Linked DNA regions of Homo sapiens. The protein of the gene in region 3 interacts with the protein of the main gene of each other region in a pairwise test. Each region holds a gene or a part of one and is shown on either strand. Other genes may lie near its edges. The genes, in order: CXorf66, RXYLT1 and POMGNT1.

Evidence for each region.
Region 1: the proteins of POMGNT1 (region 3) and CXorf66 interact in binary tests that used the Homo sapiens proteins (3 or more experiments, as listed by UniProt).
Region 2: the proteins of POMGNT1 (region 3) and RXYLT1 interact in binary tests that used the Homo sapiens proteins (3 or more experiments, as listed by UniProt).

The regions. Positions count from the first base shown.
Region 1 is NC_000023.11:139,961,352-139,972,105, forward strand, and holds the start of CXorf66 (uncharacterized protein CXorf66 precursor), read right to left. Parts: upstream 4,171-10,754; 5' UTR 4,146-4,170; coding exon 4,058-4,145; intron 1-4,057.
Region 2 is NC_000012.12:63,795,536-63,805,440, reverse strand, and holds part of RXYLT1 (ribitol-5-phosphate xylosyltransferase 1), read right to left. Parts: intron 3,351-9,905; coding exon 3,036-3,350; intron 208-3,035; coding exon 37-207; intron 1-36. UniProt on the Homo sapiens protein: Acts as a UDP-D-xylose:ribitol-5-phosphate beta1,4-xylosyltransferase, which catalyzes the transfer of UDP-D-xylose to ribitol 5-phosphate (Rbo5P) to form the Xylbeta1-4Rbo5P linkage on O-mannosyl glycan.
Region 3 is NC_000001.11:46,186,341-46,196,245, reverse strand, and holds the end of POMGNT1 (protein O-linked-mannose beta-1,2-N-acetylglucosaminyltransferase 1), read left to right. Parts: coding exon of another isoform or gene 1-44; intron 45-168; coding exon 169-234; intron 235-321; coding exon 322-435; intron 436-1,284; coding exon 1,285-1,402; intron 1,403-1,594; coding exon 1,595-1,693; intron 1,694-1,844; coding exon 1,845-1,972; intron 1,973-2,320; coding exon 2,321-2,391; intron 2,392-2,606; coding exon 2,607-2,682; intron 2,683-2,857; coding exon 2,858-2,941; intron 2,942-3,030; coding exon 3,031-3,072; intron 3,073-3,287; coding exon 3,288-3,346; intron 3,347-3,655; coding exon 3,656-3,728; intron 3,729-3,809; coding exon 3,810-3,938; intron 3,939-4,022; coding exon 4,023-4,148; intron 4,149-5,461; coding exon 5,462-5,526; intron 5,527-5,728; coding exon 5,729-5,773; intron 5,774-6,256; coding exon 6,257-6,392; intron 6,393-6,678; coding exon 6,679-6,788; intron 6,789-6,888; coding exon 6,889-6,976; coding exon of another isoform or gene 6,977-7,004; 3' UTR 7,005-7,265; coding exon of another isoform or gene 7,266-7,527; and 2 more. Other genes in the region: TSPAN1 (tetraspanin-1), read right to left, coding at 1-44. UniProt on the Homo sapiens protein: Participates in O-mannosyl glycosylation by catalyzing the addition of N-acetylglucosamine to O-linked mannose on glycoproteins.

The DNA.
Region 1 (10,754 bases), on a different chromosome or scaffold from region 3:
AAAGGTATCAATGCAACAAGAAGAGCCAACTATCCTAAATAGATATGCACCCAATACAGGAGCACCCAGATTCATACAACAAACTCTTAGACACCTACAAAGAGACTTAGACTCCCACACAATAATAGTGGGAAACTTTAACATCCCACTGTCAATATTAGACAGATCAATGAGACAGAAAATTAACAAGGATATTCACAACTTGAACTCAGCTCTGGACCAAGTGGACCTAATAGAACTCTCCAACCCAAATCAACAGAATATACATTCTTCTCAGCACCACATAGCACTTATTCTAAAACCAACCACGTGATTGGAAGTAAAACACTCCTCAGCAAATGCAAAAGAACGGAAATCATAACGAATGGTCTTTCAGATCACAGTGCAATCAAATTAGAACTCAGGTTTAAGAAACTCACTCAAAACCACACAACTACATGGAAACTGAACAACCTGCTCCTGAATGACCGCTGGGTACATAACAAAATTAAGTCAGAAATAAAGAAGTTCTTTGAAACTAATGAGATCAAAGAATCAACGTACCAGCATCTCTGGGACACAGCTAATACAGTGTTAAGTGGGAAATTTATAGCACTAAATGCCCACATCAGAAAGCAGAAAAGATCTGAAATTGACACCCTAATATCACAATTAAAAGAACTAGAGAAGCAAGAGCAAACTCATTCAAAAGCTAGCAGAAGACAGGAAATAATTAAGATCAGAGCAGAACTGAAGGAGATAGACACATGAAAAACCCTTCAAAAAAATCAATGAATCCAGGAGCTGGTTTATTGAAAACATTAATAAAATATATAGACCACTAGCCAGACTAATAAAGAAGAAAAGAGAGAAGAATCAAATAGACACAATAAAAAATAATAAAGGGGGTATCACCAATGATCCTACAGAAATACAAACTACCATCAGAGAATAGTATAAACACCTCTATGCAAATAAACTAGAAAATCTAGAAGAAATGGATAAATTCCTGGACACACACATTCTCCCAAGACTAAACTAGGAAGAAGTCAAGTCTGTGAATAGACCAATAACAAGTTCTGAAATTGAGGCAGTAATTAATAGCCTACCAACCAAAAAAAGCCCAGGACCAGACAATTCACAGCCAAATTCTACCAGAGGTACAAATAGGAGCTGGTACCATTCCTTCTGAAACTATTTTAAATAATAGAAAAAGAGGGACTCCTCCCTAACTCGTTTTATGAGGCCGGCGTCATCCTGATATGAAAACCTGGCAGAGACACAACAAAAAAAGAAAATTTCAGGTCAATATCCCTGATGAACATTGATGCTAAAATTCTCAATAAAATACTGGCAAACCGAATCCAGCAGCACATCAAACAGCTTATCCACCACCATCAAGTCGGCTTCATCCCTGGGATGCAAGGCTGGTTCAACAAACGTAAATCAATAAATGTAATCCATCACATAAACAGAACCAATTACAAAAGCCACATGATTATCTCAATAGATGCAGCAAAGGCCTTTGATAAAATTCAACACCCCTTCATGCTAAAAACTCTCAATAAACTAGGTATTGATGGAACATATCTCAAAATAATAAGAGCTATTTATGACAAACCCATAGCCAATATCATACTGAATGGGCAAAAGCTGGAAGCATCCCCTTTGAAAACCTGCACAAGACAAGGATGCCCTCTCACCACTCCTATTCAACATAGTATTGGAACTTCTGGCCAGGGCAATCGGGCCAGAAATAAAAGCGTATTCAAATAGAAAGAAAGTCAAATTGTCTCTGTTTGCAGATGACATGATTGTATATTTAGAAAATCCCATCATCTTAGCCCAAAATCTCCTTAAGCTGATAAACAAATTCAGCAAAGTCTCAGGATACAAAATCAATGTCCAAAAATCACAAGGATTCCTATACATCAATAATAGATAAGCAGAGAGCCAAATCATAAGTGAACTCCCATTCACAATTACTACAAAGAGAATAAAATACCTAGGAATACAACTTACAAGAGATGTGAAGGAACTCTTCAAGGAGAACTACAAACCACTGCTCAAGGAAATAAGAGAGGTCACAAACAAATGGAAAAACATTCCATGCTCATGGATAGGAAGAATCAATATCGTGAAAATGGCCATACTGCCTGAAGTAATTTATAGATTCAATGCTATTCCCATCAAGCTACCACTGACTTTCTTCACAGAATTAGAAAAAACTACTTTAAATCTCATATGGAACCAAAAAAGAGTCTGTATAGCAAAGACAATCCTAAGCAAAAAGAACAAAGCTGGAGGCATCACTCTACCTTACTTCAAACTATACTACAAGGCTACAGTAACCAAAACAGTATGGTGCTGGTACCAAAACAGATACATAGACCAAAGGAACAAAACAGAGGCCTCAGAAATGACACCACACATTTAAAGCCATCTGATCTTTGACAAACCTGACAAAAACAAGTAATGGGGAAAGGATTCCCTATTTAATAAACGGTGCTGACAAAACTGGCTAGCCATGTGCAGAAAACAGAAACTGGATCCCTTTTTTACACCTTATTCAAAAATTAACTCAAGATGGATTAAAGACTTCAATGTAAAACCTAAAACCATAAAAACCCTAGAAGAAAACCTAGGCAATACCATTCAGGACATAGGCATGGGCAAAGGCTTCATGACTAAAACACCAAAAGCAATGGCAACAAAAGCCAAAATTGACAAATGGAATCTAATTAAACTAAAGAGCTTCTGCACAGCAAAAGAAACTATCATCAGAGTAAACACGCAACCTACAGAATGGGAGAAAATTTTTACAATCTATCCATCTGAGAAAGGGCTAATATCCAGAATCTATAAGGAACTTAAACAAATTTACAAGAAAAAACAAACACCCCCATCAAAAAGTTGGCGAAGGATACGAACAGACACTTCTCAAAAGAAGACATTTATGTGGTCAACAAACATATGAAAAAAAGCTCATCATCACTGGTCATTAGAGAAATGCAAATCAAAACCACAATGAGATACCATCTCATGCCAGTTAAAATGGTGATCATTAAAAAGTCTGGAAACAACAGATGCTGATGAGGGGAGGAGAAATAGGAACGCTTTTACACTGTTGGTTGGAGTGTAAATTAGTTCAACCACTGTGGAAGACAGTGTGGCAATCCCTCAAGGATCTAGAACCAGAAATACCATTTGACCCAGCAATCCCATTACTGGATATATACCCAAAGGATTATAAATCATTCTACTGTAAAGACGCATACACACGTATGTTTATTGCAGCACTATTTACAATAGCAAAGACCTGGAACCAACCCAAATGCCCATCAATGATAGACTGGTTTAAGAAAATGTGGCACATATACACCATGGAATACTATGCAGCCATAAAAAAGAATGAGTTCATGTCCTGTGCAGGGACATGGGTAAAGCTGGAAACCATCATTCTCAGCAAACTAACAGAGGAACAGAAAACCAAACACTTCATTTTCTCACTCATAAGTGGGAGTTGAACAATGAGAACACATGGACACAGGGAGAGGAACATCACACACTGGGGCCTGTTGTGGGGGTTGGGGGCAAGGGGAGGGAGAGGATTAGGACAAATACCTAATGCATGTGGGGCTTAAAACCTAGATAATGGGTTGACAGGTGCAGCAAACCACCATGGCACATGTATACCTATGTAACAAACCTGCACGTTCTGCACATGTATCCCAGAACTTGAAGTAAAAAAAACAAAAAACAAAAATAAACCCCTACTGTATGTTAAGTCCCTTGCCAGATTCATTTATATAGTATTAGCTAGTTTGGTGGGGACAGGTTGGTATATTGAGTGGGGAAGGGTGGTAAAGGAGGACCATAAGTCTGTCATCTTGATGCTTATATTTTGCTTAAGTTTTTTAATATCAGCTGTTGTATTAGAAATTCTTGAAGACCTACTAATGTTAACACTGCTAAAAGTAACAGCAGATTTCTTAAATACAGCTGGCGTTTCTAATTAAATACTTTAATGTATACTGTAACAGATCATAATTTACAAGTTTTAAGGTTAGGCACCTACCTGTAGTAGAAGATCCATTGGTTTGGTTTGTAGTCATGCAATTATTTTTCCAAATGGACAAAAGTAGGACACAAATAACAAGATTCATGTCCGCAACTTGGTTCAAATGATTTGTCTACTAAGGTAACTACTGAATTTATACAGTTCAGAGTGTTCTAGGCATTTATGACATCATTACCATTGTGTGTCATACTCTGACAACATAATCTCACCATAGGGAAGCATAAGCTTCTGTATACAAATTTTACCAAATGACTTTTTTTTTTTTTTTTTTTTTTGAGACGGAGTTTGGCTCAGGCTGGAGTGCAATGGCATCATCTTGGCTCTCTGCAACCTCCACCTCCCGGGTTCAAGGCACGGTGGCTCACAGCTGTAATCCCAGCACTTTCGGAGGCGGAGGTGGGCGGATCACTTGAGGTCAGGAGTTCAAGACCAGCCTGGCCAACACGGTAAAACCCTGTCTCTATTAAAATGCAAAAATAGCTGGGCATGGTGGTGGGCACCTGTAATCCCAGCCACTTGGGAGGCTGAGGCAGGAGAATCACTTAAACCTGGGAGGTGGAGGTTGCAGTGAGCCGAGATTGCGCCACTGCACTCCAGCCTGGGCGACAGAGCAAGACTCTGTCTCAAAAAAAATAAAATAAAGAGTAAAAAAGAAATGAAAGAACATGTCCTATAAAGGTGACAGTGTTTGAAATTATGCATTTGGGGCCATTGGAATATAATAAAATTAAACATTAATTGGAAAACCCCCAGCCTGGCCAATATTGTGAAACCCCCTCTCTACCATAAAAAAAAAAATACAAAAATTAGCCGGGCGTAGTGGCAGGCACCTGTAATCCCAGCTACTCAGGAGGCTAACACAAGACAATCACTTGAACCCAGGAGGCAGAGGTTGCAGTGAGCCTAGATGGCGCCACTGCACTGCAGCCTGGGTGACAGAGCAAGACTCCATCTTAAAAAAAATAAAAAACCAAAAAAAAAAAAATACAACTCAGTTTTACCCTGAAGGTCTAAATAATCCTGCTCATACTTTTTAACTGTATAAAAATCAGAAAATGTTATTCTATTGCTTTTGAATAAGCTGCTTTTGAAAATTTGAATAGGGCTTATAAAGTGAAAGAATGTATCTGTCACCTTTTTTAAAAAAAGAAATCAGGTTTTTTTTTTTCCCTAGTGTTGGATACATGGTAGACAAATATCTTAAAGCCAGTATTTCAGAAACAGCTTCCAAATTAATTTGAACATTAACTTCATATTCATAATGGTTACAAAAACACTTTACTTTCTTTGGCTTTAACATAGATTTATATGATTTTTATTTCATTTGCAAGTTTACATGACTAGCATGTTAGTAATAATAGATTTCACTCAGAAATTCTAGGTATTATTTTGATAAAAATTGTATATAATAAGTACACTATAAAACCCCATTTCTTGCTTCATATTTGTTGTTGTTATTGTTTTGATTGTTGCCAGGACTAGAGTAAAACCCAGTGAGATATTTGCCTGTAGCACAAAATTTAAGGGGTGTTGCAAAATTCAGTAATCAAATAAGATTTTAACGTGATATTTAAAAACCAAAATTAATGCCAAAAATCTATGACCAACAAAATATTGAACATTTAAATAAAGACAGGATCTGATTCTGCATTTGCATGAGCCTGTCCCACTCCCCTCACCCTAATCCCAGCTCTGTATCTTGAGCCTGCAGGGCCATATTTATTCTTTTCCACTTTAAAAAGCAGAGGGGAAGGGTCCAAGGACTTAGCCAGGTACTTAACAGGGCTGTGTCCCCAAGACCCCTAAAAATCTCACTAGGTCATTTTCCCCAGAGAGCTGCTCCTGGGCCCTTGTGTAATGATTCTTGGTGAAGAATGGCTGCTCCTGGTTTCTCTCTCCTTGGTTCTCCAGAGATTAACCTGTACCACTTTTCTGATTTCCGCCATTATATTTGATTGTCTTGCTTCCAATGTCTGGCTGGCGTCATATCTATAGGAATCAGTAGTAGGAAAAGCTCCTAAGCTCTTCCCAGCACCCACATGGCAAGTTTGAACCTTTGCCCTCATCCGGGTGAGAGGAACCTTTCTGGGGTTGCCACCTTGGGGATTTCTACTGCCCTCCTCTGGACCTCAATTGACAGTGCAATTCCGCCTTGGGCCTTCAACTTTTTCCCCTTATTTGATTTTTTTTAATTAAAAAAATATATGCACCTTATAAAAATTTTAAATCACACAGAGGTATTTCAGACTTCCTTTATCCCTTGAGATCTTCTGACCCCTTTAAAATTGCTTTAAATATTCCTTACTCACAGCTTGTGAAGATGCCTGAAATCTTCATCTCTATTTTTAATTGCACTTTAAAATTGCATTAGGAATATATTAATATTAACCCATTCTCATTATGAAAAATACACAAGACAGACATATACAGAATAAAACGTTATAGACTCTTTTCCTTCCCCACTCCACTCTATCCCCATTCTGGAGACAATGACACAAAAATTTGATGTGCATCTCTCAGATCTCTTTCTACATATTTACATACATATCTATGTACATGATGCACACCCATACTACATATAAATGGGAACATTCTATAAATATTCCTTTTCAGGATTTAAAAAAATCACACAACTATTCATATGCTGATATTCATAGCAGTATTATTCGCAATAGCCAAAAGGTGGAAACAACCTAAATGTCCATCAACAGATAAATGGGTAAACAAAATGCGGTATATGCATACAACGGAACAATATTTAGCCTTAAAAAGGAAGGGAATTCCAATATATAATACAACATGAATGAACCCTGAAAACATTATGCTAAGAAATAAGCCACATATTATATGATTCCACTTATATGGGGTACTTAGAGTGGTCAAATTCATAGAGACAGAAAGTAGAATGGTGGTTACCAGGGGCTGGGTAGAGTGGGGAACGGGGAATTATTGTTTAATGGGGACAGAGGTACAGTTTGGGATGGTGGAAAACTTCTGGATATGGATGTGATGATGACTGTACAGCAATGTGAATCTGCTTGATGTCACTGAAGTGTACACTCAGAAATGGTTAAAATAGTAAATTTTATGTTATATTAATTTTCTGCAATAAAAATATTTAAAAAAAATACACAACTAATGCTTAAACCATTTCCTTGTAAAAAAAAAAAAAAAAAAAAGTCACATGTGGCTGGGCACGGTGGCTCACGCCTGTAATCCCAGCACTTTGGGAGGCCAAGGAGAGTGGATCACCTGAGGTCAGGAGTTTGAGACCAGCCTGGCCAGCATGGTGAAACCCCGTCTCTACTAAAAATACAAAGATTAGCCAGGTGTGGTGGCAGGCACCTGTAGTCCCAGCTACTCGGGAGGCTGAGGCAGGAGAATCGCTTGAACCCAGGAGGCGGAGGTTGCAGTGAGCCGAGATCGCGCTATTGCACTCCAGCCTGGGCAACAAAAGCAAAACTCCATCTCAAAAAAAATAAAATAGAATAAAATAAAATAAAATAAGTGGTCAAGAAATGTTATTATTATTGGGTATAGTACCCACTTTTAGAGAGTTGATAAAGTAGGCCAGCAGATAATACCTATGTTGTTAATATCAGGAGTCAGGGACTGAAGGGAATTTGAGAATGGGGGCCAGAAAGAGAAGCAGAAGAGTCCCCAAATGGAAAGTGAGTGGTTGCCAATCAACTCTAGTGTTTAACTTTATGAAACAAAAAGTAGAAGAGATATAAGAACAAATAGATAGAAGCAAAGTTATACTACACAACTTTCAGCTCAAGATAAATCAAGTGGACACAAAATTATTAAGGAGGTAGAATATGTAAATAACATAAAATATAATCAATAGGGTTGATCATATATACATATATATGGAACTTTACAGTCCTTCCTTCTCTTTTTCACAGACATAATGAATTGTTTTATCTTCTTGGGGGCAGGAAATCTATCATTTTGGAAAACCACTTCTTTCCACCTCAACCAAATGGTCTTGATAAGAACTAACAATTATAGTATCCCTCTCTCCTGGCCACAAGGGTGAGCATGTGGCTCAGGCTAGACCAGTAATCGGTTCCCATCTCTAACCATAGTGATTGGTTTATAGTTGGGCATGTGACTCAGGACAGGCTAATCAGAAGTTTTCCCCAAAGATTTTTCAAACAATCTGGGCTGAGAAATTCCCTTACCACCAGCGCAGTAAACCTGGAAAAGATGTCCAAAGGTACCTGTGACACAGCCCCTGATGGCAGGAGTAAGCTAATTAGAAAGGATGAAAGTGGCTGGGTGTGGTGGCTCATGCCTGTAATCCCAGCACTTTGGGAGGCTGAGGCGGGCATATCTCTTGAGTTCAGGAGTCCGAGACTAGCCTGGCCAAAATGGTGAAACCCCGTCTCTACTAAAAATACAAAAATTAGCTGGGCATGGTAGCACACACCTATAATCCCAGCTACTTGGGAGGCTGAGGTTGGAGAATTGTTTGAACCCAGGAGGCAGAGGTTGCAGTGAGCCGAGATCACGCCACTGCACTCCAGCCTAGGCCACAGAGTGAGACTCTGTCTCAAAATAAATAAACAAAGAATAAAAGTGACATAAAGAGAAACATAAAGATGAAAGATGGAGAGTCTTCCAAGGAGAGTTACAATTCCTGTTTTCCTACAGCCATCTGCATTGCTGCCCTTCTAGTGGTTTGATTATATGTATTAATATAGTCCTTTTTTTGATTCACTGGTTGGAACTGGCTTTGTGTCATTTTCAACCAGAAGGGCTCTAACGAATACAAATTGATGTGATGTGTGTATATAAACAACAGGATAATAGCACGGAGGTCCCTGAGCCATTAATTCAGATTGATGGGTCAAAGCCAGACCCAGCATACTTGTTCTCGGGACAGCAGCCCCCAGCCACACCTCTGTAGCACAGGGGATGCTGCTGAGGTAGAATGAATCTGACACCTACGTTCACTGGAATTTTAAATGTTCCCCTGCCAGCAGTTACCAATACATCTCCTCTTTGCAGGCATGGACATTTCTGGTGAGAAGACTGTTAACAGCTTCCCCTCTTATATCTCTGTGCATAGCCAGTAAGACTTCCCTGCCAGTGCAAAGGCATGTGTATTCTTACTTGCATACGTTCACAACATGTGTACACATGCGTGCCCTCCAGGGTCTTCACACATGCACATATATGCATGAGCTCTCAGGTAGAACATGTAGGAAGCATCTGTAGTACTAGAAATTATGTTTCGTTTATTTTTAAATCTCATATGCCATATGTCTGTTAATGTGCTCTAGTTATTACCACATAAAGAATGAATAGCTGGTTTGATCTCAATTGTCGTCCAGCCTCAATTTGTTCAGTGACTGACATTAATGAAATCGTAATAGGTTGCTTTCTAGAAGGTTTTAACCATCCTCTAAGGGAGATTTTGACATTCTAGTATCCATTTCACACTTCTTTGCCTATTCTGCCATCGTGTGGGCAAGGAACACAAACATCAAGGTGTTAATGACCCAAGGTTGCATTTGAAAAGGGCTCTAATGATTACAGATTTTTTTTTTTCTCCAGGGGTAGAGGAAAAGTGGGAAGGACATGAGGAGGAAACACAAGTCCCCTCGCACCACCGCGTAAAAAGGCTGACTCTCCCTTCCTTCCTTCCTTCCTTCCTTCCTTCCTTCCTTCCTTCCTTCCTTCCTTCCTTCCTTCTTTCCTTAATTCCTCCCTCCCTCCCTCCCTCCCTCTCTTTCTTTTTTTCTTTCGACAGAGTCTGGCTTTGTTGCCCAAGCGGGAGTTCAGTGGCGCGATCTCAGCTCACTGCAACCTTCGCCTCCCTGGTTCAAGCGATTCTCTTGCTTCGGCCTCCCGAGTACCTGGGATTACAGGCGCCGGCCATGATGCCCGGCTAATTTTTGTATTTTTAGTAGAGACGGGGTTTCACCATGTTGGCCAGGCTCAAACTCCTGACCTCAGGTGATCCACCCGCCTCGGCCTCCCAAAGTGCTGGGATTACAGGCATGAGCTACCGCACCCGGCCAAAAGCTGACTACTTTTACTAAATCTTTACAAGGAGTTCAGGTTGGAGGGTTTGCTCATCGGAATGCAGTGTCCCTCAGAGGAACTAGCGCATATTAGCACCACCGTATGCCAGGCATGGAATTCTCGCGGCAATCCCTTGGGTGGAGGCCAGCTGGGTAGGCACTATCATTGCATTATCATCTTCCTTTTACAGATGAGCCTACTGAGATCCAGAACGGCTAAGTATCATGTCTAAATTCCCACAGGTAGTAAGTGGCAAAGCCAGGAGGTTTTGAAAATAAGCTGGGAATATAAACGGAAACTATAAAAAAAGTTTCATTAGAAAACTATGTACAAAGAAAAACAAATTACAGGAATACGATTGCACACAAGGCAATGTATATCTATGTCTTATGAAGCTAAATAATAAAACCAATACTTATGAATGCACCAACTAACTTAAGGAAACAGCACCACCAATGCCACTGAATCTCCTTGGGTGCTCCTCTCTGACCCTATCCTCTTGTCTCCTTGCCCTGAGATAGCCACTATCCTTTTTTTTCATTCCCTTGATTTTCATTACTGTTTTATTCCAAAAGTATGTGTGTTTAGTTTTGCTTTGTTCTGAAATGTATACAAATGGAATTTTATACATTTTACGTTTCTCCTGTGACTTGCTTTA
Region 2 (9,905 bases), on a different chromosome or scaffold from region 3:
AACAAAATGAATGAATTAAATAAGCATAGAACTTACTGTTCTCTTGCTGAAACCCAACAAAGCTTATCGTTCCCATCTTTTTTCAAAATGTTCATTAGTGCCTGTCTGGATGAATTTTCATAAATCGTTCCTAAGAAATTACATAAATATGGCCTCTCATCATGCAGCATTGACCAACTTGCCTCCACCACAGGAAAATTCCTGTATCTATAAAAATAAATACACATGAATTAACATATGATATAGAATTGGCAAAAATTCCCCATAACCCAATCTCTTAGGTAGCAAGAAGTATACAGAAGAGGTTTAAAATGTGATTTCTAAATCTCAAATTGTAATTTTCCATGAATACTTTGGAAAACTCCCTGAATCTACTGACTTAAAAAAATTGAATTTCACACTGACATCTCTTACAAAAGTGTTACAGAGATGTTGTGCCTAAAGTTATTTGTTTTTGACATTCTTTAACTTGCATTACTCATCTGCAGCTGTTAGGCATGTTACATTCAAAACCTTCAAAGTATAAAGACTCTTCTCTATTCATAATGATCACGATTTAAGCAACATTTTAACCAGGTGATGAAAAGATTACAGAATACTCCAGGGGAGGGAGATGGATGGGGAAAAGGAAGATGTTGATCGAAGGGTATGAAGTTTCAGTTGGACAGGAGGAATAAGCTTTAGTGATCTATCACACAGAATAGGGTGACTATAATAAATAATAATGCACTGTATATTTCAAAATTGCTAAAACAGCAGATGTTATGTTTTTACCACAAAAATTGTTAAGTATATAAGGTTACGGATTTGTTAGTCTGATTTAAGCATTCTACGTTGTAAATATATTTCAAAACATCATTTGTACCCCATTATCATATACCATTACTATTTGTCAATTAAAAAAAAGGAAAGATTATATATTTTGCTATTGCAAAGGGCTCTGAAAAATTAATCCCAAGGGCTTTTCAAGTAGATTAAAACAAACTGACAGATAAAACCATGGTATGCCATACAGGAAAAGTTACCTATTTTTATGAGCATTTGGAAATACCAGGGATTAAACTGTGTACCTGAAATGTAACTTTCACACGAGAACAAAATTTTACCTAACAGTTTGTATATAACAGGGTTTCTTAGCCTCAGCATTACTGACATTTTGGGTTAATTTTTTCTTGTGGAGGCTGTCCTATACATTGTGGGGTGTTCAGCTGTATCCCTGGGCTCTATCTGCTAGATACCAGTTGTGACAACCTCTTTCCTCCAGTTGTGACAATCAAAAACGTCTCCAGGCCAGGCACAGTGGCTCATGCCTATAATCTCAGCACTGTGGGAGTCCAAGGCAGGCAGATCACTTGAGGTCAGGAATTTGAGACCAGCCTGGCCAACATGGCGAAACCCCCTCTCTATAAAAAATACAAAATTAGCCAGGAGTGGTGATGCCCACCTGTAATCCCAGCTACTTGGGAGGCTGAGGCAGGAGAATGGCTAGAACCTGGGAGGCAGAGGTTGCAGAGAGCCAAGATCGTGCCACTGAACTCCAGCTGGGGTGACAGAGCAAGACTTCGTCTCAAAAAAAAAAAAAAAAAAAAGTCTCCAGACACTGCCAAATGCCTCCCGGTGGGCAAAATTGCCCCTGGTTGAGAACCACAGACCTATATAAGAAATATACTGGCCTAGTGCAACAACATCATGATTACCAAGAGGTTCCATCTTATACTATATGAAAACATTTTACAAATGCAGGCTCTGCTCAAAAAATAGATTTTTAAGAGGGTCTTAAACCTGGCTTTACTTAACAAGAACCTTTTTGTCTGGCCTTACCCCAAACCTACTGAGTTAGGGTGTTATAGGAGTAGGCTTGGGAATACATCTCATTACTGGCACAGATGTGCCAGTGACATCTGTGTCGCTAACTAGGCAGCAGTCTAAGGCCACATCCCGCAACCAGGGACAGAATGATGAATAATGAATGTATGATTCAAAAATCATGTCAGTGAGATTTTTCATAATTTATCCACTCAACAAATACAGAATACCTACTCTGCAGGTGCTGTTTTAGGCTCTGTGGATAGAACAGTGAACAAAAGAGACAAAAATCCCTGCTCTCAGGAGGTTTATATACTAGTGGCAACTTATCTTAAAGTCAACTTGCTCTTAATTAAAAACATCCTATTAACAGAAAGATAAAAATATATGTTTTCCATTTTATAGCTGGAGAAAGACTATATCTTTTTTTTTTTTTTTTTTTTTTTTTTTTTTGGTGAGACAGTCTCATCTCACTCTGTTGCCCAGGCTAGAGTGCAGTGGTACAATCTCAGCTCAATCTCCTGGGCTTAAGTGATCCTCCCACCTCAACCTCATGAGTAGCTAGGACTAGAGGCGCCATACAGGAGTCCATGTCACCATGCCCGGATAATTTTTGATTTTTTTTTTTTTTAGAGATAGGGTTTTGCCATGTTGCCCAGGATGCTCTTGAACTCCTGGACTCGAGCAATCTGCCTAGTTGGCCTCCCAAAGTGCTGGGATTACAGGCAGTAAGCCACTGCGCCTGGCCTAAAAGACTGTATCTTGAGAAACCTTAGCTATCATTTAATTAATCCCTCCTTTTATAGAAGAGATTTGTATAAATTCAGCCAGTCTCAAACACAATGGTACGGTATATTCCTGATATAATAATATTGCCTTTTTTTACTATATATAGATACTATCATTGTTTTTAAAAAAATCTATCTGCCATTTCTCTGCTAAATATATTTTTATGGCACTCCTAATAAGCTTGAAAAATCCATTCTATGCCTTGGGGTTTTAAAAGAAAAAAAGTAACTCATCTCCTCATTAAAGAATAAAATACTCTTAAAAACATCATAATTGTTATTGAAGGATGCGACCACACCCTGTTTTTATCTCTGAGAAAGACTGTACCTGGCCTCAATAATCCCAGAAGAACTAAATTTATTACAATTTTGAATAAGTCTTCCTGGTTCAGAAATTCAGGTGTTAGGGCCTAAAAATGTTTAATCATATTTTGTACTTACGTTGCTACTCCTAAAGGCCACTGAAAAACATCCACGTCATTAATCCAGGGGCTGTCATATATTATGAAAAGCAGCTCCACGAAGCCTCCATTTCTTTTGAGGAATGGGTTTATCCACTCATTATCACAATGTTCATTTCCGAGCAAAACAACAGCAAGATGCTGGAGTTTTTGAATTTGCACTAAATTTTGTGCATAAAGTAACCACTGGGTGGCATAAAAGATCTTTGCTTTTTCTCTTCCATTTAAAATGAGTACCACATTATTCACATCAACGGAGAAGTACCCTGGTATTACAGCTGGACCAGTGATGAAGCTGTTAAAAACAACACAACAAAAACAAGAGACAAACAAAGCCTGAACAAAGGTATGTGGTATCAGAAATTCATCATTTTATACAAAATCTACAATGAGATTTAATCCACATTCTATCTAGAAGTAAAATTTCTATAATACAATCTTTTGAACAAGTTTGAATGATGGGGCATAGCTGTAGATTAATGGTAAGCTTTGGCTGTAGGCAGATCAATTTGCATATGATAATACAAAATGTGATAGTTTTGTGTTTTTTTGTTTTTTTTTTGAGGCAGGGTCTCAACTCTTGTGGCCCAGGCTGGAGTGCAGTGGTGCAATCTTGGCTCACTGCAGCCTCAACTTCCCTGGCTCAGGTGATCCTCCCACCTCAGCCTCCCGAGTAGCTGGGACTACGGGTGTGCACCACTACACACAGGTAATTTTTCGTATTTTTTTGTAGAGATGGGGTTTCACCATGTTGCCCATGCTGGTCTTGAACTCCTTGGCTGAAGCAATCCACCTACCTCAGTCTCCCAAAGTACTGGGATTACAGGCATGAACCACCATGCCTGACCTTTTTTTCTGTTGTTGTTTTAACCACACTGAAAATAAATGCTGGCTAGAATTTAAACTCTTAAGCAAAGAAATATAATTGAATAGCATGGAACTCTGTAAAATAATGGTTTAGTTCAAACCAGAAAGGCATTTAAAGTCAGTAGTTCTCAACCCTTTTATGGTGTGAGCTGCTATTACACTCTTCATCTGACTCAATGGATGAGAAAGTGCTGACAAATTAAGAAACGAAGAATGGCATTATAAACATTCCATGAATGTTATATCTCAAAAATATAATGTTAAAAAAAGCAAGGATTAGGACACTCACAAAATATACATAAACTTGAAAGTACAGTCATAAAAATTATTTACACATATATATTTAGGATCAGTATAAATATAAAAATTTGAATGGGAGGATCCACATCAAATTTATGATAGCAATTGTATCTGAGGAGGAAGGAAGATGAAAGGGACTAGAAAACAGTACAAAGGGAGCTTTACCCTTATTGAAAGTATTTAATTTTTTTAACAGGAAAATTAAATATCTGAAGCAAATATGACAGAGAGCTGAAATTTGTTAGTTTTGAATGGTGAGTAAATGGGAATGTGTTGTATTACCATTTTTTTTTTTTTTGAGACAGAGTCTCAGTCTGTTGCTCAGGCTGGAGTGCTGTGGCATGATCTCAGCTCACAGCAGCCTCTGCCTCCTGGGTTCAAGCAATTCTTGTGCCTCAGCTCCTGAGTAGCTGGGACTGCAGGTGCGTGCCACCATGCCCAACTAATTTTTGTATTTTTAGTAGAGACAGGGTTTTTGCCATGTTGGCCAGGCTGGTCTTGAACTCCTGACCTCAAGTGATTCACCTGCCTTGGCCTTCCAACGTGCTGGGATTACAGGTATGAGCCACTGTGCTCAGCCTACTCTCTTTTTAACTGTATTTTTAAAAAGTTTTCATTAAAGGAATAGACATGTATCATAACTCATTTTTTTCATATTAAGTGCTGCCTAGAACAACCAGTACCATTGAAATATTTTCACTAGTATGTATTAAATAGAACAAGTACCATTTAATTCATCTTAAAATTAGTCACTCTTATCCTAGATTCTTTACAACTTGCTTAAACCATTTCTTTATATCCTGATAGAATCTAATTTTCAGCACAAATATACCCAAAGCCTACTTTCATTGCTTCTTACTGCTGGGGATAAAAACATTTGTTCAACGCCTTTTATATACATGATACATAAGCACTTTGCATGGGTCATCATTAACCCCCCCAACAACTCTGAGGAGTTCATTATTCTCTCATTGGCATTTGTGAAATTGCACTTTAGCTGTCAGCTTGTAATGGCAATGACGAGTTCTCAACAAAGTTCTGTCTCACTTCAGAGCTTAAGTTTTTCCATAACTCCATGGTTAACAAATACTAAACAGATATTAGTTAAAGCACAAAACGTAAAAATATATTTTACTATGTGTGCATGTACCATATGATTTATATGACATTATTCTAAAATTATATAACATACAGGGACCAGGACTATGTTTTGAGGACTATGTTTGCCTTGGACAGTATCTAGCACTGGCAATGACTAATGATTCAGTGATAACCTAGTAATTTAAGACAATATGCAGAATCTGAGGGGCTAGAAAAACTAGCAATGATGATGATAATTATGGTATGTTTAAAATATTTATTATTGGTAGCATACGAATACTTTGTATTTCTCTTTTAGAAATATAAGCAGGTATAATTCTTAAGAGCATGAGAAAGTCTTCCAGTCCTCCTTCCCCATGTTAGGCCAATTTTATGAAGGAAAAAAAAGGAAATCTTGAGAGAGGTTCTATGACTTGCATAAAGCTAGCTGACACTAGATAGGAAATGGTACAGATCAGACTCAAATTTGGTTATTTGACATTAAGTCCATATATATCATGTGCCCAAACAATTTCAGAGTGCCATACAGCTGGGTGTGGTGGCTCATGCCTGTAATCCCAGCACTTTAGTTGACTGAGGTAGGCGGATCGCTTGAGTCCAGGAGTTCGAGACCAGCCTACACAATATGGTGAAAACCCATCTCTACAAAAAATACAAAAATTAGCTGGGCATGGTGGTGCAGCTACTCAGCAGGCTGAGGCAGGAGGATCACTTGAGCCCAGGAAGTCAAGGCTGCAGTGAGCTGAGATCACGCCACTGCACTTCAGCCTGGGTAACAATGAAACGTTGTCTCAAAAAAAAAAAAAAAAAAAAAAGAAAAGAAAAGAAAAACAAAGTAGGTTTTAGTCAATGTATTAAAATAAAATATATGAAGCTATTCTCAAATGTAACTTTCATGTGAAAGGAATATCTTTCTAATTTTAGTGATCCACACAAATTAACAAAATGAAGTATGATTCATTCAAGGGCACATTTATACTGTCTTGGTCTTGGATGTCCACAACTCCCTGTGTTTTGGTAATGGTGAAAGCCATGGGGTCAATACTGCGAAGCCAAGGTGTAGGTCAGAGATTCTTAGCACCTTTAGTGTTCCTGTAAATTTTTCAGTGTCTCCCAAGCTAAAAGAAATGCTTAACAGTTCAATTTTTAAAGTCATTAGGTCTAAACAACCTAATAAGTATCTATGTCCTAACAGCTTAAAAGTGACTTAAAAAAATACACAGACACTGAAAGAAAAACTCATATTCCTATTTCATTCTTAACTAATCACAAATATTTAATAGCATGTGTGCACCTGTTGAGCACTATAGAACTTCTCAAACCTTGGAATCAGTGGACACTGTCAGTGTCATTTCCTGTTCCACACTCATTTTTGTGCAGTGCGTGCATTTTATCACGGCAACCATGGAAAACCCAGCTTCACAAAGTCCTGATATTGTTCAAATAAATGCAGGGTAATCTAATGTTGAAACTGTACTGCTTTGAACTTGCAGTTTGCATAGGGCCTGAAAGATATCAAGTATCAGTGTTTCCCATAAATATTTAAAATATTTGGTGATGTCCCACAGTGCCTCCGTCAAGGAACCACAGATCTAAAAGAAGAAACTTTAAGGGCCCAAAAAATTTCATTTGATTCAGATACCTGGGTTGTATGTATGTATGTACATATGTGTGTTGGAAAGTTTGTTAGTCAAACTGCAATGGGTTGAGAAGTAAGGAAGTGATTACAGTGAGTATAGACAAGGATTCTGAAAGTTTTGAAGAGAAGGTGATAAAGCAATAATGAATGAAGTGGAGAATAAAGGAAAGCAAGGAAGTAATGCATGGAACAAGGTCCTAGAAGCAGGTGGGATGCACAGGTGGTGGGCTTTAACCTTGAGCCAGGAAAGATCACTCAATGTTTGAGAGCTTGGAAAGAGATAAGGATGGGTGAGGGACCAGACAGAGAGTAGGTACATGTTACAGCAGCTAGTTAAGAGAGATAATTATGATGTCCTCAATTTTCCTGATGAAAGAGGAGGCAGGGTTGTCTGCTGAGAAAGAGGAGATAGGTAGATGTTGGGTGGTGGGCTAGAGAAGAGTGGACAGATTTGCTATTTCTGTATTTTCTATTTTTGTGTCACATTAGCTACCTACTCATGCAAACTAGAAACTAGGGACTTCTCAGATTTGTTTCCCTCTCTCATCTTCCCATCTAATTAATCCCTAAATTCCGACCATTTTGCTCCTAAATATTTCTCAAATTTGTCCCTGGCTCTGACCCACTACCACTTCCCTATTTCATCCATTAGTTTTATCTCTGTGGGATACTTCCAATCTCCTACTTGGTCTGCCTGCACCCAGCTGTCTCCTTCAAATCACTTTCCCCCATGGCTGCTAAAGAAATCTACACACATAAACACATGACAATACCACTATCCTGCTTAATCATCCTCAATTGCTTTTCACTACCCTAGAATAAAGTCCAAGAGCCTTAATGTGGTACATACAAGGCCCACCATGATCTGGCCCTTGCTCAATCCTCCCCATCTCAGCTACCTTACCTTTTCTTCATGCTCTAGGAATATTGATTGGTTTGCAATTCCATGCATAAACCCAAGTTTATCACTTATGAACCTCTGATGTCACTTCTGCTGGGAATATAATCTTTTTTCTGCCTTGCTAACTTCTACTCATTTTAAAGACTGCTCAGCTATCACCTCCTTTAGAAAACATTTGTTGATAGGCCCCACACCCCTAACTCTACTTAGATTGAGTTAATTGCCTTTCTTCTGTATTTCCATAACAATAAACATGGTAGAGTATGCATATTCTTATCATTATGCTTTCTATATGGTATGAAAATAATTTATGAGGCTGGGCATGGTGGCTCACGCCTGTAATCCCAGCACTTTGGGAGGCTGAGGCAGGTGGATCACCTGAGGTCAGGAGTTCGAGACCAGCCTGGCCAACATGGTGAAACCCCATTTCTACTAAAAATACAAAAATTAGCTGGGCATGGTGGCAGGTGCCTGTAATCCCAGCTACTTGGGAGGCTGAGGCAGGAGAATTGCTTGAACCTAGGAGGTGGAGGTTGCAGTGAGCCAAGATCGTGCCACTGCTCTCCAGCCTGGATGACAGAGCAAGACTCTGTCACAAAAAAAAAAAAAAAAAAGAAAAAGAAAAAGAAATATAATTTTCTTTAGGCCCTAAATTCTTCTAATAGTTGGCTTTTTTATTTTCTCAATTTCTTCTTTTTTTTATCGACAGGACTATTGCAGTAGGCTTTTTTCCTAATGAATGGTCAACATTAAAGTCTTATTGGGATTGCACTTTCTTTATTTTTAAATTTTTATCCAGTGATTCTGGGGATTTTTATGAGGTTTTCTTGGTTGTTTTTTATGTATTTATTTGCATATAACAAACAATTTAATTCTTTGTTCCAAAATAATTCATCATATTCAAATGATGTGCTCCTTTTACTTTTGTTTCTTAAAATCAAAACGTTTAAGACTACTAAACATTTTACTCCTTGCTCTGAAGATGAGGCCTAATTTAAGAGATGAATAATCAGCTGATGACTGATTCAATGAATGGCATTTATCTCTTTATTTGTCTTTGGGTATTTATATGGATGCTAACATTTGTGGGTGAAAGGGAGATACTGTGGGACCTTGTAATCATATTGAAAAACAGGTTATCTACATGGTCCCAGAGAATCTCCTAGTAAATATCACAATGGAAAAAAACAGTAACTTTACAGTGAACAAACTAGGCAGACTGCACCTTAGCCAAGTGATCAAAGTTAACATAATCAGTAACGGGAACAAATATGACACACTGAGGATGACACGATGTTGTTTCTGAGGTATTCGGAACCAAAATACATAACCTGAACTGAACTGTAAGGAAACATCAGACAAACCCAAACTAAAGGACGTTCTACAAAATACATGGGCAGTACTCTTCATAAGTCACAAGGTCAACAAAGACTGAGAAACTGTCACAGACTGGCTGAAGCCAAAGAGATATGAAACCAAGCACACCGTGTGATTCTGGATTGGAAACTGGGCCAGAAAATGGACAGTAGTGGGAATGTGTGTATCTGTAAATTAGATAACAGTTTTGTATCAATGTTATTTTCCTGAAAAAAATAATTATACGGTAATTATGTAAGATGTTAGCATTTGAGGAATCTGGATGAAAGGTGTAATGGATTTTTTTGGTACCATTTTTGCAATATTTTTGTTAAGTCTAAAATTATTTCAAAAAGAACAAGTTAAAAAATTAAAATATTAAAAAACAATAATTTCCCATAATTTTACAGGAAATAATTTGGGTATATTTAAATATTAGCAGTTTAAATGGCTATAGATTAAAGTTCATAGAGATAAATGCTCAAATAGAGGAGAAATGAGTCTGGTATTATATTTAATATTGGGTTCAATTATTATACATTTTGAAGACACAGCCTATAAATTCACCTCTCATTAAGGAAAGGTGTTATAAACACAGAAATAGCCCAACTTTTATATTTTAATACTTTTTTTTTTTTTTTTTTGAGACAGGGTCTTGCTCTGTCACCGGCTGGAGTGCAGTGGTG
Region 3 (9,905 bases):
AGGCTTTCTGGAAGAGGTGGCCTTCGAGCTGAGTTGGAAAAGAACTGTGTGAACAGAAACATAGGCAGGAGGTGATGTTTCAAGCAGCTGGTGTTTTAAGTACCCCTAAGACAGAGACACCTTGAATGCCAGAGTGAAAAGCTGGACTTTGTCTCTGCCACTGTGTAGGTGCTGGAGGATGAGGCCCGGGAGCAGGGCCGGGGCATCCATGTCATTGTCCTCAACCAGGCCACGGTGAGTTTCTAGGGGTGGGTGACCCAGAGGGCTGGAGCTGGGCTCTTGCTGATGACACCAACTCACCAGAAGTATATCCCCTGCCAGGGCCACGTGATGGCAAAACGTGTGTTTGACACGTACTCACCTCATGAGGATGAGGCCATGGTGCTATTCCTCAACATGGTAGCGCCCGGCCGAGTGCTCATCTGCACTGTCAAGGTCAGTTATTCTGTCCTGACCCTGACCCCTACTCCCTAGCTCCAACCCTGCTTCTAGCCCCGGCTTCTCTGCCCCTCATATAACATAGTGGGAAGATTCTCTGAAGGAAGGTTACTCAGGTTCCAATCTCAGCCTTAACATTTGTATTAATTCAGCAAATAGTTATTGAGCAACAGCTGTATGCCAGGTACTTCTCTGGGTGCTGAAGATACAATGGGAAACAAGACAGAGTCCCCACCCTCATGGAGCTTATATTCCAGCAGTGGGAGGTCAACAGAAACAGCCAAGTAAATGTGGATAATGCTAGTAAATGATAACTTGTATAAAGAAGAAAATAAAGCAGGGGATAATGAATGATAGAGGGGAGGGGACATTTTAGAAAGAGAAGGCCCCTGCAAGGAGATGATATGTGAGCAGAAAGCTGAGGAATTGAGGAGTGAGCCAGGTGAGTATCTGGAGGAAGAGCATTCCAGGTGGAAAGAATGGCAAGTGCAAAGCCCCTATAGTGGGAAGGTACACGGCATATTTGAGGAACAGCAAAGATGCTAGTCGAGGTGGAGCAGAATAAGGGAGGAGAGTAGGAGAGTGGTTGGAAAAGAAGGCAGAGAGTGGCGGGAGAGAGAGGTGCAGATCGTGTGGGTTTGTGGAAAGGACTTATTAGCTGGATGACCTTAGAATCTCTAAGCCTTCAGTTATTATTTTATCTGTGAAAGAGAGTAACCATAGAGGGTTATTGCAATAATGTAATGAGCTATTTTAAGTAAAAGGTTGCTACATAGTTCGTGCTCTGTGAGGCCAGGTCTCCTGGAACCATGCCAGTCAGGCTAACTGCCTTCTCTGGTCCCCCAGGATGAGGGCTCCTTCCACCTCAAGGACACAGCCAAGGCTCTGCTGAGGAGCCTGGGCAGCCAGGCTGGCCCTGCCCTGGGCTGGAGGGACACATGGGCCTTCGTGGGACGAAAAGGAGGTGCCGGCATCAGAGGCCATCCACTCTGTAGTATCAAGAGCCTGGGAGGAGCAGAACCCTAGGAGATGGGGTGGGGTGGGGAACAAATAGGAGCCAGTGGCAGTGGGTTGGATGAAAGTAGGCAGGGAGATGGGAAAAAGCCCCCAAACTGGTGTCTGGGCCCCCATGGCCCTCATTCCTGCCTCCTGCCAGGTCCTGTCTTCGGGGAGAAACATTCTAAATCACCTGCCCTCTCTTCCTGGGGGGACCCAGTCCTGCTGAAGACAGATGTGCCATTGAGCTCAGCAGAAGGTGGAGTTAGTGGAGCATGGATGGGGCAGGGCCTGGGCTGGGGGTGGGCATTTAGATCTCTCTGTGGAGCTTTATTCCTTTGATTGTGTGCCTGGGGCTCTTCAAACCTTGCTGGCCCCATGCCTCCATGACAACCGCATCCTTCCCTCAGAGGCAGAGTGCCACTGGGCAGACACAGAGCTGAACCGTCGCCGCCGGCGCTTCTGCAGCAAAGTTGAGGGCTATGGAAGTGTATGCAGCTGCAAGGACCCCACACCCATCGAGTTCAGCCCTGACCCAGTGAGTGGGGCCTTAAGACAGTGAGGTTTGGACTCCTTCCCAGCTCAGCAGGGGGGCCCCAGGAATGATCTAGGTTGGGCTTTCCCTACCTGAGCCTGGGAGAGAACCAGGGGCAGGATTTACACTGCGCTCTGAAAGACAGGGCTGGGGTGAAGGGGCAGGCCATGTGAGTAAAGCTCAGCGCTAGAGTTGGGCTGAGTGTGTGGAGAGCCCAGAACAGGGAAGATCCTCTATCCCTTCCCTGTCTACTCCAGTCTGCACCTACCCTCACCTGAGAAGTCTTCCCTAGGTGGGGATCCCAGTTTGAAGGGGGAATAAGGCAAGAGCTAAACGCTATTTCTCCCACAGCTCCCAGACAACAAGGTCCTCAATGTGCCTGTGGCTGTCATTGCAGGGAACCGACCCAATTACCTGTACAGGTAAGCCTGGGAATGGGCTATACCCAGCACTGAACAGGAGGGTGCTTAGGTCATCTACCTCCAGGAGGAACTCTTGAGGTGGGCAGAAAGGCAATAGATTCTAGACGCATTCACCTCTGTGGGTAAGCATAGGGACTCTGGGCCCAGCTGTAAACACAGGGGAACCTGAGTTGAGGGGTGATGAAGTGACCCTAACCTATCCCTGGGCTCCCCAGGATGCTGCGCTCTCTGCTTTCAGCCCAGGGGGTGTCTCCTCAGATGATAACAGTTTTCATTGACGGCTACTATGAGGTGAGCAGGACTTGGGGGGTGCCTCGGGTGGAGTACAACATGGAGCAGCAGTGATTGCCAGGGACGGGCAAGGGAGACCGCCCAGGCAAGGGCTGTGAAATGTGAAGGCCTTGGATTGCAGAGGTGGGCAGAGGGAAAGTGACCTCACATGGTGAGCAGTGGCCATGTCCCCCAGGAACCCATGGATGTGGTGGCACTGTTTGGTCTGAGGGGCATCCAGCATACTCCCATCAGCATCAAGAATGCCCGCGTGTCTCAGGTACTGCATAGGCAAGTGGGGATGGGGCAGACACCTGGCTCTGCCTTCTACCCTAAAGCTCATGTGCCCTATTCCCACCCCACTCCCAGCACTACAAGGCCAGCCTCACTGCCACTTTCAACCTGTTTCCGGTGAGTACTAAGGATACAACTCTTGGGCCTGGGAGGGGGGAAACATGGGCATAAGGTCTGGGCCTGTTACGTGGCAAGCTCTTCCCCTCACTGGGCCTCATCCTTCACATCTGGAAAATGGGGGTAATGCTGCCTGCAAGAAGAGGGTTGGGGGCAAAGGAGATCACAGGATGGAGAGACCCCTTTGGGACCATGATGTCCCATTCCCCTTCTAGGAGGCCAAGTTTGCTGTGGTTCTGGAAGAGGACCTGGACATTGCTGTGGATTTTTTCAGGTGAGGGGAGTCTCTAGGTTTCAGTTGAGGTCCCTCAGTCTGCAGGGAAAGAGTCAGTGAGGTGTCCTAGAGAGCTTTCTGGAGGACATGAGCTCACAAGTGGGGGCGAAGCCTGGGCAAAGGTAGGATGGCAGGTGTTGGGGCTGCTGTTGAAGGTACAGTGGATGAATGGAGACAGTGGGGATTTGGGGGAAGGAGGTACTCCAGGAAGGAGGTGCTCCTGAGACCCAGCTCCAGCAATTCTAGCATCTCTGTGTGACTAGATTTATCCTTGTCCCTCCCTGAACTCTTTGACCCTGCCTCTCTCAGTTTCCTGAGCCAATCCATCCACCTACTGGAGGAGGATGACAGCCTGTACTGCATCTCTGCCTGGAATGACCAGGTAGGCTGGAATGACCAGGGTTTAGCAGGCGAGTTTATGAGGCCTCAGCTAATACCTCCCACTATGGCACCCTGTCCCCAGGGGTATGAACACACGGCTGAGGACCCAGCACTACTGTACCGTGTGGAGACCATGCCTGGGCTGGGCTGGGTGCTCAGGAGGTCCTTGTACAAGGAGGAGCTTGAGCCCAAGTGGCCTACACCGGAAAAGGTAACTGTCAGGGTAGGGTGAGGGGGCTGGAGTCCCCTACCAACTCGAAACATCTTAACCTTCATCGTGGTCCATGTCTGCCAGCTCTGGGATTGGGACATGTGGATGCGGATGCCTGAACAACGCCGGGGCCGAGAGTGCATCATCCCTGACGTTTCCCGATCCTACCACTTTGGCATCGTCGGCCTCAACATGAATGGCTACTTTCACGTGAGTGGGAGGCAGGGAGCAGGGCACAGTGTGGCATGACAGTCAAGAACAAGAACATGGACTCTGAAGCAATCTTAGCTCTGCTACTTGCTAGCCATGTAACCTTGGGGAAAGAGCTATCCTATTTTTGCCTCAGTTTCTTTATCTGAAAAATGAGGATAAAGGGCTGGGCGCGGTGGCTCACGCCTGTAATCCCAGCACTTTGGGAGGCCGATGCGGGTGGATCACAAGGTCAGGAGATCGAGACCATCCTGGCTAACATGGTGAAACCCCATCTCTACTAAAAATACAAAAAATTAGCCGGGCCTGGTGATGGGCGCCTGTAGTCCCAGCTACTTGGGAGGCTGAGGCAGGAGAATGGCGTGAACCCAGGAGGCGAAGCTTGCTGTGAGCCAAGATCACGCCACTGCACTCCAGCCTAGGTGACAGAGCGAGACTCCATCTCAAAAAAAAAGAGGATAAAATACTACTACCTCACTGGGTTACGATATTTTGAGGTTTAAATGAGTCAATATATGTAAAGTGCTTTGAATTATAAACATATATAAGGGTCAGCTGGTATTGTTTTTATTTTTACTATTTTTAGCACTAGACTGTGGGTGTCTGGGGAGAGTATTTCTGCCTCTAAGTACTGGTCCAGCCCTGCAATCTCTGCCCTTTCCTGTTTTGGCAAGTGCTGGAGCCTATGCTTCAGCCTGAGGAGAACAGGGAAGTCCTTAGGTACCGCCAACCCACCTGGCTGCATTCAGAGGACCATTCCCCAGTTACAGCAAGGGAGGCCTTGAGCCAGCCCAGCCCAAAGGAATGAATAGCGTCCAGCTTGGAACCTCCTAGAAGCCAGAGGTCCCTCAGAGGCTGACTAATACGCGAGCCCCATTCCTCTCCCAGAGAGGGGCAGGCGCTTCCCTCAGGTCACTCTCAGTACCAGAGTCAAAGTAGTTTTTTCCTTCCCAGCCCAGCCCGTCCCTTTGCCCACCACCTCCTGCAGGGCCTGTTTCTGACATCTGTGGCTCTAGAACAGCAGGCCCAGGGAGAACTACAAGAGGCAGGGACTGCTAGTTCATGGGTCTGTGGTGCAGTAGTGTGAGCTGCCGTGACAGCATGAGCTCTCCAGCAATGGTGGAGGCCAAATTAAAGCTAGTAAGAGCTTGCTGAGGATGCTGCAAAGAGGATGGAGAAGACGGTGGGAAATTAGAGGGCTCTTTACAGGTCTAGGACTTCATTTGTGTGTCTTATAGATGTCTGGCTGGTCAGCAAGTGGGTGTGGGCCAGACAATGTGAGGTGCTGATTTTCACTCTCATACCCACTCCAGGAGGCCTACTTCAAGAAGCACAAGTTCAACACGGTTCCAGGTGTCCAGCTCAGGAATGTGGACAGGTTGGGGCTGGCAGCAGGGCAAGGGGTGGATATCTAGGAGATTTGGAGGCCAGTCCCTGAAAGTCCCTTCCAATGCTGGGCCTGTGTGTTTACTCCAGCCCTGCGGCTACAGATTCCCATGTGACCCCTTGCCCTGCTCAGTGCTACCCATGGGACCTGAGGGCCTGCCCACTCCCCTGACCCATTTCTCCCTCCTCTTCAGTCTGAAGAAAGAAGCTTATGAAGTGGAAGTTCACAGGCTGCTCAGGTATGGCCTAGGACAATTGGGGTGTAGCAGGGAGCAAAGAGTCAAATACTGGGGATCTTGGCCCCATAATTTACAGGGTCCTGTGCAAAATGAAAATCAGGGCCCTCATCTCAAACATTAGGAACTTCAGGCCGGGCGCGGTGGCTCACGCCTGTAATCCCAGCACTTTGGGAGGCCGAGGTGGGTGGATCATGAGGTCAGGAGATCGAGACCATCCTGGCTAACACGGTGAAACCCTGTCTCTACTAAAAATACAAAAAATTAGCCGGGCGTGGTGGCAGGCGCCTGTAGTCCCAGCTACTTGGGAGGCTGAGGCAGGAGACTCCAGCCTGGGCGACAGAGCAAGACTCCATCTCAAAAAAAAAAAAAAAAAAAGAACTTCAAGGTGGCAACAGCAGAGCATTCAACCAAGTACAGGGTCCTGTGGGACACACCCATGAAGTGGGCCCTGTCTTGGCTATATTCTCCCACCCTCTACTGCAGTGAGGCTGAGGTTCTGGACCACAGCAAGAACCCTTGTGAAGACTCTTTCCTGCCAGACACAGAGGGCCACACCTACGTGGCCTTTATTCGAATGGAGAAAGATGATGACTTCACCACCTGGACCCAGCTTGCCAAGGTGCTCCAATACCATGCCCACCCTGGAGAACCCCTCCCCCTCACACACATACTGCCCCAAGATCCAGGGAGCCTTTGCTCTGGAATCTTCAACCTCAGAACCTCCTCTTTATACTCTTAGAACACCTCTTCCAACCTCCTTGTCCAAATTCATATTCTAAAAGATGCTATCTCTTACAAATTGAGGTGGTTTCTGAGGAGGGGTGGGGGCTGGGCCAAAGGGTCGTCAGTGACCCCTCCCTACAGCTCTCTGACCCATGTCTCTGTCTCCATCCCACCCTCACTAGTGCCTCCATATCTGGGACCTGGATGTGCGTGGCAACCATCGGGGCCTGTGGAGATTGTTTCGGAAGAAGAACCACTTCCTGATGGTGGGGGTCCCGGCTTCCCCCTACTCGTGAGTGACCCTTTTCTGCCCTGGGAAACAGGAGGCCTAGTGAGATCCAGGGATATAGCTAATGGCTTCTTCTCTATACATTCTTGTATTATTTTCCCAGAGTGAAGAAGCCACCCTCAGTCACCCCAATTTTCCTGGAGCCACCCCCAAAGGAGGAGGGAGCCCCAGGAGCCCCAGAACAGACATGAGACCTCCTCCAGGACCCTGCGGGGCTGGGTACTGTGTACCCCCAGGCTGGCTAGCCCTTCCCTCCATCCTGTAGGATTTTGTAGATGCTGGTAGGGGCTGGGGCTACCTTGTTTTTAACATGAGACTTAATTACTAACTCCAAGGGGAGGGTTCCCCTGCTCCAACACCCCGTTCCTGAGTTAAAAGTCTATTTATTTACTTCCTTGTTGGAGAAGGGCAGGAGAGTACCTGGGAATCATTACGATCCCTAGCAGCTCATCCTGCCCTTTGAATACCCTCACTTTCCAGGCCTGGCTCAGAATCTAACCTATTTATTGACTGTCCTGAGGGCCTTGAAAACAGGCCGAACCTGGAGGGCCTGGATTTCTTTTTGGGCTGGAATGCTGCCCTGAGGGTGGGGCTGGCTCTTACTCAGGAAACTGCTGTGCCCAACCCATGGACAGGCCCAGCTGGGGCCCACATGCTGACACAGACTCACTCAGAGACCCTTAGACACTGGACCAGGCCTCCTCTCAGCCTTCTCTTTGTCCAGATTTCCAAAGCTGGATAAGTTGGTCATTGATTAAAAAAGGAGAAGCCCTCTGGGGATGTCTTGTGATTGTGATTTTGTGTGTCAGGGGGGTGCTGGAGGGAAGTGGTGGAGAGAATACTTGTGTTGGATGGTGAGTTTTCCTTACTGTCCTCCACAGAGTTTATCTTCCATTTGGGGCCATTTGGCCACCAGGGGATGCCTGAGTCTCAAACTCCAAGGTTTTTCCCCAACTCTACCCTAGGACAGCTTGACTTTAGCCCCGCCCTACTTGAGGCTTGGAGCAGCCACCCTACCTCTTCCCCACCGTTTAACCACCAGCCGGGTTCCTGCTTATCTTGCCTGGGCCGGGCACCTGTCCCCAGAGACAGAGCAGGAGAGAACAAAAAGGGATACTGGGGAGTTGGAAGAGGAAATGAGAGAGCAGGTGTGCATAGTAGGGGTGGGAAGGAAGTGGATGGGACAGGACTGGGCAGGCATCATTCAAGAGACGGGCTAGGGTGCAGATGGAGATGTAGGAGCAAGGGTGTCTATGGCCCTTAGAGCACTTTGCTATTCAGAATTCTCTATCTGGGCATTTTTGTGGAGAAATGGGTCATGGTCTTCATCAGATTCTCACATAGCCAGTAACCCAAAGAGGTTAGGAAGATCTAAGTTAGTCATAGGGGCACCAGAAAATGGATGGGATTGTCCAGAGGGAGTGAATGAGAAAGCCTACGGCAGGGAAAAGAACATTTAAGGGATCTGTGAAGGGCCTAATGTCAGGAGGATGAGTGTGGAGCACCTCTTCAGAAAGGGTCTGCCTGCCTCTGTACAAGTACAGAACTCCAGCTGGAACTCCAGCCCTCCTGCCTGCTCTCTGCCCTGCCTCTTTCACAGGTGCTTGGAGCCCAACTCGGTGACAGCATGGGTGGTATGTCGCTTGGACATATCTCGCCACCCTGACGCCTTCAGTGTTTGTTGGAGCTGGATATAGTGCCTGAGGTGGCACAACAGCCAGGTTGAGCAGCAATTAGCCCATGATGAGGTAGAGGCCCGCCCTGGGCAAACAAATCCCATGCAGCCTCCACACAGGCACACGGCAGAGGAGAAGTGTGAGAGGCACAGTATGGTGGTGAAGGGGTGAGGCAGGCTAGCTCCTCCCCCTGTCCCGCACCCTAGCAGGCTCCTGGTCTGGCCCTCACAGACCAGCTCTAAGGCACTGTTTGGTTCTGGCCAGGTCCCTCTTCCTTTCTGGGCTCAGCAAGGGGGTGGTGGTTCTGGGCTGCCCTGGAAAAGCTCAGGAAGAGAGTTACAGGGGTCAAAGGGAAGTAAGGAGGGGGACTGGTTTGTTAGGCTGGGCTTTGCTTGGTAGCAGACACTGTACCCTCTTGCCATAGCCTCCCTCAGGCCTCTCACTCCTGGCTCAACAGTGATCAGGTCTATATCAGACATTCTGGCCAGCTGCCCCTTCAAGTGGAACTAGTACCATGTCAGCCAGGACTACACCAGGTGCTGGAGTTCTGGGCCCAAATCTAGGCTGAGCTCTTCACAGAAGCCTGTGGGACTGGGGCAAGTATCTTGGCCTTTCCGATCCCTAGTTTCCTACCTGGAGCATAGGGATAGTTAGGGCTAAAGAAGAGATGAGGTCTAGGTCAGGTGAGGTGGCTCACGCCTGTAATCCCAGCTCTTTGGGAGGCTGAGGCATGTGGATCACCTGAGGTCAGGAGTTCGAGACCAGCCTGGCCAACATGGTGAAACCCTGTCTCTACTAAAAATATAAAAAGTTAGCCGGGCGTGGCCGGGCACGGTGGCTCATGCCTGTAATCCCAGCACTTTGGGAGGCCGAGGTGAGTGGATCACGAGGTCAGGAGATCAAGACCATCCTGGCTAACACAGTGAAACCCCGTCTCTACTAAAAATTCAAAAAATTACCCGGGCGAGGTGGCGGGCGCCTGTAGTGCCAGCTACTCGGGAGGCTGAGGCAGGAGAATGGCGTGAACCCCAGGGGGCGGAGCCTGCAGTGAGCCGAGATCGCGCCACTGCACTCCAGCCTGGGCGACAGCGAGACTCTCTCAAAAAAAAAAAAAAAAAAACACAAAAATTAGCCGGGCATGGTGGCAGGTGCCTGTAATCCCAGCTACTCAGGAGGCTGAGGCAGGAGAACTGCTTGAACCCGGAGGCAGAGTCCGCAGTGAGCCGAGATCACACCATTGCACTCCAGCCTGGGCAACAAGAGCGAAACTCTGTCCCAAAAAAAAAAAAAAAAAAAGAAAAGAAAAGAAAAAGAGGTGAGGTCTGAAGAACACCAGGTAGGCCAGCAGCAACGAAAAAATGAAGTGCTTGCTGAGATCCCAGAAGCAGGGACAGATCTGGGGTTTTGCCTGAGTGGGAAAGGCAGGCAGCCTGGACCCTAGGAA